Regions from separate parts of the Homo sapiens genome. Here all the other regions are linked to region 1. The links come from fine-mapping of genetic effects on gene expression. A gene starts in region 1. Each other region holds a variant in brackets. All regions are shown on one strand. Distances are between the middles of the regions.

Region 1 (2,759 bases):
CTTCCCTGAGGATGAGATGGAAGAGGGACTGAGGGCCCAAAGTGGCTGAAAGACAGAGAGCCAATAGGAGGAAGTCCAGTTACAGAGGGCCAGGATTTGGGTTTTTAACCATTTAATGGTTATAAACTGAGACTAACATACTCAGATTTAGACTTTACAAAGATCAGCAAGTATAATGGATTGGAAGGATCAAGAATTAATCCCAGCCTGACCAACACAACCTCCACTTCCTCCTCCCAGCAGTTTGGAATCCTTACCTTTTGCAATAGTATACGTTCATTCATTTATTATGCATTCGATAATATTTACTGAGAGCCTACTATGTGCCAAACATTATCCTAGAGGTTAAGAGGGGACAAGAGCAAAGGGTCAGCAGTCTAGGGGTGAGATGGAGTCAAAAGGACGGCAGGTCAGCTGGAATGATGAGAACAGCAGTGGAGAGCCTTTAAAAGTGCCTTGGACTGGACCGATTACCTTCTAAATGCCGGCGCCCGGAAAAATCACTAACACCCTTTGGACTTACGTATTTCCATCTTTGTAAAATGGGAACCTACCTCGCAAGGGATGTTGCAACAATCGAAGAAAACTATGCACAATGCTTGACATCCAGTGGGTCCTCAGTAAATAGCCTAAGAAGGAAGCAAGGTTATGGTTACTTCTGGAAGAGGTGGCTTGGGGGCTGCGACAGGTGCAGCGATTGCCTGATGATAACATCTAGAAAAGCCCTTGCTGGGCAGAGGGGCAGCCGACGACCCCCGCCACTCAGCGAGTCTCCAGGTTTCCCGGAAACGCTAGCTCCAGTGACTTCTCAGATGCCCCTATGGGACCCCACCCAGGGCTGCCGCCGCCACCACCTACTGCAGCCGAAGCGGATGCACCTCGCGACTTTCCCCGCAGCCGCTGCCGGGGCCACAGCGAGGTCATGACGCCCGTGACGCATACGCAGCCAGCACGCACGCGCGCGGCGTGGCCCGCCCCCCCCTCCCACCCCGGAGGCGGGGCCGTGAGTCCCGGGCTCCGCCCCGGAGCGTCGGGCCCCTCCCCGGGCCCCGCCTCCAGCTCGCCTAGGACCGCTTGGAGCCGGCAGCTCGCCTGCCAAACCCGGCTGGGAACGCCTGGCAGCTTTTAGGAGGGGGCGGGCCCGGGGGTGGTGGCCCCAGGAGCGGTTGCCGCGGGGACCGGGCAGTGACGCGGCCCAAGGGCGGAAGTGAGAAAGTTGTCTGCGTCTCGAGGCGAGTTGGCGGAGCTGTGCGCGCGGCGGGGCGATGGGGGGCTCGGGCAGTCGCCTGTCCAAGGAGCTGCTGGCCGAGTACCAGGTGCGCGGGACGCCTGGCCCTGGGGAGCTCGCGTGCGGGCCTCTTCTCGGGAGCAGGGTCCGGGAGCTGGCTGCGGGGCGGCCGCGGCCTCCCAGCGGTCCGCTAATCCCCGCTCTGGCTTTGCCTTCCAGGACTTGACGTTCCTGACGAAGCAGGAGATCCTCCTGTAAGTGCTGCCTTGAACCCTGCCTCCGACCCCGGGATCCTCTAGAGACAGCTTCGGGGGCGCTGTCCCGAGGGAGGGGCGGGGGCTGGCCTGAGGTCTGCAGAGGAGCGGGAGCTGGAGGCCGGGAGACCTAGCCCGGGCTGCGCCCTCCTCCCGGCACGCCCTCCCCGCCCTCGCCTGAGGCCCCAGCGTGGCACCGCGGAGCCACCTTACAGCCTCCAGGAAAAGTTAGGCGCTCTTTGACCCTGGGCTCCACTAGCTTCAGCACTGCCGAACTTCCTGCCCCAGTCCGGCAGGGGCCGACCTTGCCCAGTGGCTAAACCACAGAAGCCTTGGGGAGCCCGGCTCCTTCTCCCAACTTTACCTGAATAATACAGTAACCGTTATCGCTTTCTGAGCACTCACCATGTGCCAGGGACTGTGCTAAATGGTTGCCTGCGTTACCTAATTTAATCTTTAGGAGAGAGGTACTGGACAATGAAACAGGTTCAGAAAGGTTTGGTAACTGCTTAAGACAACACTCTGAGTAAGTAGATTTGAACTTGGGCTGGAAGCCCTTTTGCCGGATTTATGCAGGCCAGGTTCCTGTGGCAAAGATAAGCTCATGGGAAGGAGGTGGAGGCCGAGGAGGACAGTTCAGTGTGGTTGCTAAAAAGGAGGCTTTGAGGGTAAGAGATCCCTGGAGTGAAGGTGAGAATGAGATTTTTGGTTTTGCTCTTTTCTCCGTTTTTTTTTTTTTGAGACAGCGTCTCGCTCTGTCGCCCAGGCTGGAGTGCTGGGGCACGATCTTGGCTCACTGCAGGCTCTGCCTCCGGGTTCAAGTGATTCTCCTGCCTCCGGGTTCAAGTGATTCTCCTGCCTCAGCCTCCTGAGTAGCTGGGATTATAGGCACCCGCCACCATGCCCGGCTAATTTTTGTATTTTTAGTAGAGAAGGGGTTCACCATGTTGCTCAGACTGGTCTCAGACGCCTGACCTCCAAAGCTCCGCCCGCCTTGGCCTCCCAAAGTGCTGGGATTACAGGTGTGAGCCACCGTGCCTGGCCAATTCTTTAGGGCCAACTTCTGGCTCCTTTCCCAACTTCTTCATCCCTTGGGGATCTCTAGAATCAGTGCCAAGCACATAGTAAATGCTCAGTAAATACTCATTGCAAGAATAGACTCCTAGGCTGTACTGCCTTGTGACATGTCCTTTTGCTTACCGTTGCCTGATGACTCGGAAGTTCTGTGTACGTGGTTTTAGCTCCTCACCTGGTTGACAATGAGCAGCAGGCAAGGA
Region 2 (2,759 bases), 21 kb before region 1:
TATGTGCAGAGAGGGCCTGGTCAAAAGGTTTCTGTGCATCAAGGCTTTCCCGGGGCCGCATGGAGCTCTTCCTGCTATCTAGTCCATGCTCTTCCTGGAGCACTCAGTCTCAGACCCTCTTTTCTTTGACCAGCTGAAACTTTCTCATTCCACTTCCATCCCTCTGAGACATTCCTAGGTCACAAGACCAGAGCTCTGAGAGCGACCCTTTTCCTCCCCCTGGTATCTCAGCATGGGAAGCCAGACCCACTCACTCTGCGGGGAGGCACCAGGTGCGGGGGAAGATGTTGTACTCAGAGGGATAGAGTTTGTACATGCGGTTGAGGTTCCGAGCCAGCAGATCTTTGCGGCAGATTTCTGTCATGCCAGGGAAGTGGTTGATTTTCTGAAACACAGCCAGTTAGTATGAGCCCCCAGAGTAAGTGGCATTTCCTAGCACCTGGGCATCCCAGGAAGCAGTGGAGGAGGATTGGGAAGGTTAAGGGAGAAGTCACAGTGGAGGTAAGCACTGCACCAAGGACCCCAAGGGCAAACATAGGAAGGTTCCTTAAGGCAGGTGAGAAAACCCTCTGTGACTCCTACCCAACACACACATCCACACTGAGCTCAGCAAATGAGGGGCAGTGAGAAGGAATGTAACTAGCCAAGACTGTGGCTTCCACAGTCCACCTTCTAACACCCCTCAGACCACCAGGCCTAGTCCTCTAACAATAACTAATGCATGATAGCACAAAGCAGACAATGAGACGAAAGCATTCCCCAAAAGACACAAAAGATAAAAGGAAACTAAGAACCAGCCCCAAGGAATGTGATGCCATGGCACCCACTGAGGGCATGGCATCACCCTGGTGCCTGCCAGAAACCCCTGGCTGCTCTGTCCTGCTGGATGGGTGGCAGCATCCGGGATGCCACCAAGTAAAGAACAAATAATGAGATAGGATGTACCCACCAGACACTTCCTTCAGGTAATTCCAGAGACCCAGGAGGAGAATCTTTCCGTTGGAAAAGAATACCCTGGGGATGGTCTTTCCTGTCTGCACAGGGGGACAGCCACAAAGAGTATGCTAAGTGCTCTCCACTGGGTTTCCCCATCACTGGCCGCACTCACTGTATGAACTTAGTATTTCTGACCCTCCATGTCCTAACCAAGGGATATCTGCTGCTCAGGGCTGTTCTTGAGGATTTAATGGGGTAATACTATAAAAGCACTTAACACGGAGTCTGTTGTACAGTAAGCCCTCAGTAAATGCTGCTGATTATTGTTATCCTTATCCTTTTTTTTTCCCCCTTCCCTGAGACAGGGTC[T/C]CCCTCTGTCGCCCAGGCTGGAGTGCAGTGGTGTGATCTCAGCTCACTGCGGCCTCTGCCTCCCAGGCTCAAGAGATCCTCCTGCCTCAGCCTCCCAAGTGGCTGGGACTAAAGCATGCACCACTACGCCTGGCTAATATTTTTTTATTTTTGTATTTTTGGTAGAGATGGGGTTTTGCCTGTTGCCCAGGCTGGTCTCAAAGTCCTGAGTTCAAGCAATCTGCCCACCTTGGCTTCCCAAAGGGATTTCAGGCACGAGAGCCACCGTCCACCGTGCCCAGCCTGCATTCCTCATTTTACAAATGCCCCTCCTTTGGAGCGTCCTTTTTTTTTTTTTTTTTTTAGATGGAGTCTCACTCTGTCACCCAGGCTGGAGTGCAATGACACAATCTTGGCTCACTGCAACCTCCGCCTCCTGGGTTCAAGTGATTCTCCTGCCTCAGCCTCCTAAATAGCTGGGATTACAAGTGTGCGCCACCATGCCTGGTTAATTTTTGTATTTTTAGTAGAGATGGGGTTTTACCCTGTTGGTCAGGCTGGTCTTGAACTCCTGACCTCATGATCCGCCCGCCTCGGCCTCCCAAAGAGTTGGGATTACAGGCGTGAGCCACTGTGCCCAGCCTTTTTTTTTTAAAAAAAAAAAAAACAGGGTCTCACTCTGTCACACAGGCTGGAGTGTAGTGGCATGATCTCTGCTCACTGCAACCTCCACCTCCTGGGTTCAAGTGAACTCCTGACCTGAATTGATCCACCTGCCTTGGCCTCCCAAAGTGGTGGGATTACAGGTGTGAGCCACCACACCCAACCTCCTCTGGAGCTTCTTGAGAACTTCTAGCACTTGCTTTCTCTCTTGGGCACCTCTCCCAAGACTAGTTGTGGGACAGGTTTTAATTTCCTCAACTTCCTGCCTGGCTTCCCCAAAGAATAAGCCTGCAGACTCTTTTAAATTATTTTATTGCTGATCACCACAAACGCCCAATTAGAGGATAATAAAAATGTCACAAGGCAGTTCTATTCTTGTGGACCCCGGTGGATCATTCCTGAATTTCTTGCCACCAGGCAGGACCCCGCAGTCTCCTAATGGATGTGGAATGCTAAACTAAGTTGCTTAGAAGGCTGGATCATTCAACTGGCCCTGCTGTTAGCTCTGAAGCTGCCTCCCAGTATTCTCCCTAAGATGTGCTCACCCACCCTGGAGAGGGCCAGCTACACACAGATGCCACCAAGCAAAGTGCAAATCATGAGATAGGATGTGCCCACCAGAAACTTCCTTTGGGTAATTCCAGAAACCCACAATCTCCAAGAGGAGATCTTTCCATTGGAAAAGAAGACCCTGGGGGTGGTCTTTCTTGTCTGCACAAGGGGACAGCCACAAAGAGTAGCAGTCTTGGGTGCCTGGGCAAGGAGGTGGGAATAGTCATTCTGGGGCCCTAGCCCCTGTCGGCTCTCAGGTC
Region 3 (2,759 bases), 54 kb before region 1:
TTATTGTCCTCCAGAAATTCTACTTCTATAAATTCAGTCCAAAAATGCTTGCTCGAGTCCATTAAAATGTATATATAAGAAAATTTACTTCTAGGGTGACAATGATTAACTTAATATACATCCAACTATTAAAAATGATGATGCCAAGGATATATTTACTGCCATAGAAATTTACTGCCCAAAACATAGTGACAAAAGACTATATGTTATGATTCTACTTTTAAAAATGTTTATATGCATAAAAAAGTATAAAAAGCAACAAATCAGAATGTTTTGAGTGGCAAAATTAGACTTTTCTTCATATTTTGTCTTCCAAATTATTACAAAACAATGTGACTTTCTTTTTTTTTTTTTTTTTTTGAGACAGAGTCTCGGTCTGTCACCCAGGCTGGGGTGCAGTGGCGCGATCTCAGCTCACTGCAACCTCCACCTCCTGGATTCAAGCAATTCTCCTGCCTCAGCCTCCTGAGTAGCTAGGATTATAGGCATGCACCACCACGCCCGGCTAATTTTCGTATTTTTAGTAGAGACGGGGTTTCACTATAATGGACAGGCTGGTCTCGAACTCCTGACCTCATGATCCACCCACTTCGACCTTCCAAAGTGCTGGGATTACAGGCATGAGCCACCATGCCCGGCCTCTAAGAATGTGATTTTCTTTATGATCAGGGAGAAGTATTATTTTCATTTATTTATATTTAAATTTTTTTATTTTCCCTATTTTTTCTCATGTATGTATCACATGCAGTCTAGAGAGCCGGAATCCCTGCCTCTTGAGGTAAATCAGCCCATTTCTGTCTCTATAAATTTGTCTTTTCTGGACATTTCAAATCAACGGAATTATACAATATGTGGTCTCGTGTCTGGCTTTTTTACTTAGCTAATGTTTTTGAGGTTGATCCATGACACGACATGTTTTGGTAGTTTGTTCCTTTCATTACTGAGTAGAAGACCATTGATGGAAATAGCACATTTTGTCAGCAGAGAGCCTTTGAAACTTGGATTCCAACTTCCTGTGGCCTAAATGAAACCCTCAGAACACAGGACTTACAGGCGAAGCTGCCGTATATGTCAAAGTAACTACTTATCAGAACTAGCTTTGTCATCAGGAGCCTGAATTTTCATCATTTTGCAACTTAACTTTTTTTTTTTTTTTTTGATACGGAGTTT[C/T]GCTATTTTTGCCCAGGCTGGAGTGCAATGGCGCTATCTCGGCTCACTGCAACCTCTGCCTCCCAGGTTCAAGTGATTCTCCTGCCTCAGCCTCCCGAGTAGCTGGGATTACAGGCATGTGCCACCATGCCTGGCTAATTTTGTATTTTTTAAGTAGATACAGGGTTTCTCCAGGTTGGCCAGGCTGGTCTCAAACTCCCGACCTCATGTGATCCACCCACCTTGGCCTCCCAAAGTGCTGGGATTACAGGCATGAGACACTGCGCCCGGCCTGCAACTTATTTTTTACAAGCAACTTTTGTGCTACATGTCAGGACTTTGGAAGCATCTGATACATTAATTTAATAAGTATGAGCATGTGGCTGAGTGGACAAGAAAGTGAAACCATCCATGCTACATTGCATATTTTTTCCTCTCCCAGACTGGACCAGGGAATCTCCCAACTTTCTAGAGTATCCTGTCTTCATTTACAAAGCTGAACAGTATTAAAGATCCTGCTGCCTTTGTTAGGCAGATTTGGAGGGGAGGCCCAACAGCAGTGGTGGAGAGGAAAAAGAGAGTGGAGCCTGTGGAACAGGAAGCCCCCCTCCCCGCCCCCCGACACCGGGGTCCGCACAGGGCTCCCAGCTGTTGAGGATGTTGTGGATGGGGAAGTGCTGATAGTGTCACCAGGCAAGCCTAGCACCTCCAATGGGCCCAGAAGGTCTTGACTTTGGACCCTTACCCTTGTTTCACAAGTGTTTAAAAGCTGTTTTTGCTTTTGTTATTTTCCCGAATACTCATTACTTAGTAGGTAGTTATTAATCTTTCTTTGGGAGAGGGACAGGGCTTTAAAACTGAAGAACATAATTTTCATAAAAATATCAAAAATAGAAAAAAAGTTACTTTAGAAACAATTTGCTATATAAACCAAATGGCAGCTGTTGAGAATCTCAATAAAATGTTAAATGCATTTGCTGCTTTTAGAAGAAATAAAGAAAAAAAAATTAGATGAAATAAAGAAAAAAATGCATTTGCTGTCAGTGGTACCCTTTTGCCTAAGGGTGGCACTGTGTCATCATACTGTGGTGGGGGGTGTGTGTGCTGTATATGTGTGAAACTTTTCATCTCAGGATAGATCATAGTCTTAGTTGCAGTTTTCCTTCCAAATAGGGTTACAAAGTAGTAAAACATGGACTTGGAAGTGACAGACCTGAGGGAATCAGTGCAGCTTAAAAAAAAATCCAATAAAACTAACTTTTAATAATCCTTAGATTGGTTTTTGAAACAATAGATATAATTATTTACTCTAAGCATCTGGTTATGATTTTGAAACAATAATACATGCTGTCTCCGCCCTTTTTTTCTTTTCTTTTTTTTTTTTTTTTTCTTATGGAAACAGACGTTTTATCCAGAAAACCCCAGTGACTTTTTTTTTTTTTTTTTTCCAAACATGGTCTTACTCTGTTGCCCAAGCTGGAGTGGAGTGGTGGATCTCAGCTCACTGCAGCCTCAACCTCCCACCTCAGCCTCCCCAGCAGCTGCATCCACAGGCACCACTGTGCCCTGCCAATTTATTATATTTTTTGTACAGATGGGGCTTTTCCATG

The links.
Region 2: its variant is fine-mapped to the expression of CIB1 in whole blood (INTERVAL, PIP above 0.99).
Region 3: its variant is fine-mapped to the expression of CIB1 in whole blood (TOPMed, PIP 0.97).

What each region holds. Positions count from the first base shown.
Region 1 is chr15:90,232,392-90,235,150 of GRCh38, reverse strand. CIB1 (calcium and integrin binding 1) reads left to right here and starts at 1,210. Exons shown (of 7, transcript NM_006384.4): 1 at 1,210-1,316; 2 at 1,448-1,482. The coding sequence starts at 1,266. GDPGP1 (GDP-D-glucose phosphorylase 1) reads right to left here and starts at 942. Exons shown (of 4, transcript NM_001013657.3): 1 at 859-942; 2 at 555-629. RefSeq lists silencers at 808-1,247, 1,268-1,717.
Region 2 is chr15:90,253,381-90,256,139 of GRCh38, reverse strand. TTLL13 (tubulin tyrosine ligase like 13) reads right to left here. Exons shown (of 15, transcript NM_001396017.1): 5 at 255-385. It also overlaps a transcript of CIB1 not described here. Among named protein-coding and RNA genes, the nearest start is that of TTLL13, 5.2 kb to the right of the region's middle. The variant T/C (reference allele first, on the strand shown) is at 1,306.
Region 3 is chr15:90,286,326-90,289,084 of GRCh38, reverse strand. No RefSeq gene overlaps it. Among named protein-coding and RNA genes, the nearest start is that of NGRN, 22 kb to the right of the region's middle. RefSeq lists an enhancer at 1,357-1,921. The variant C/T (reference allele first, on the strand shown) is at 1,171.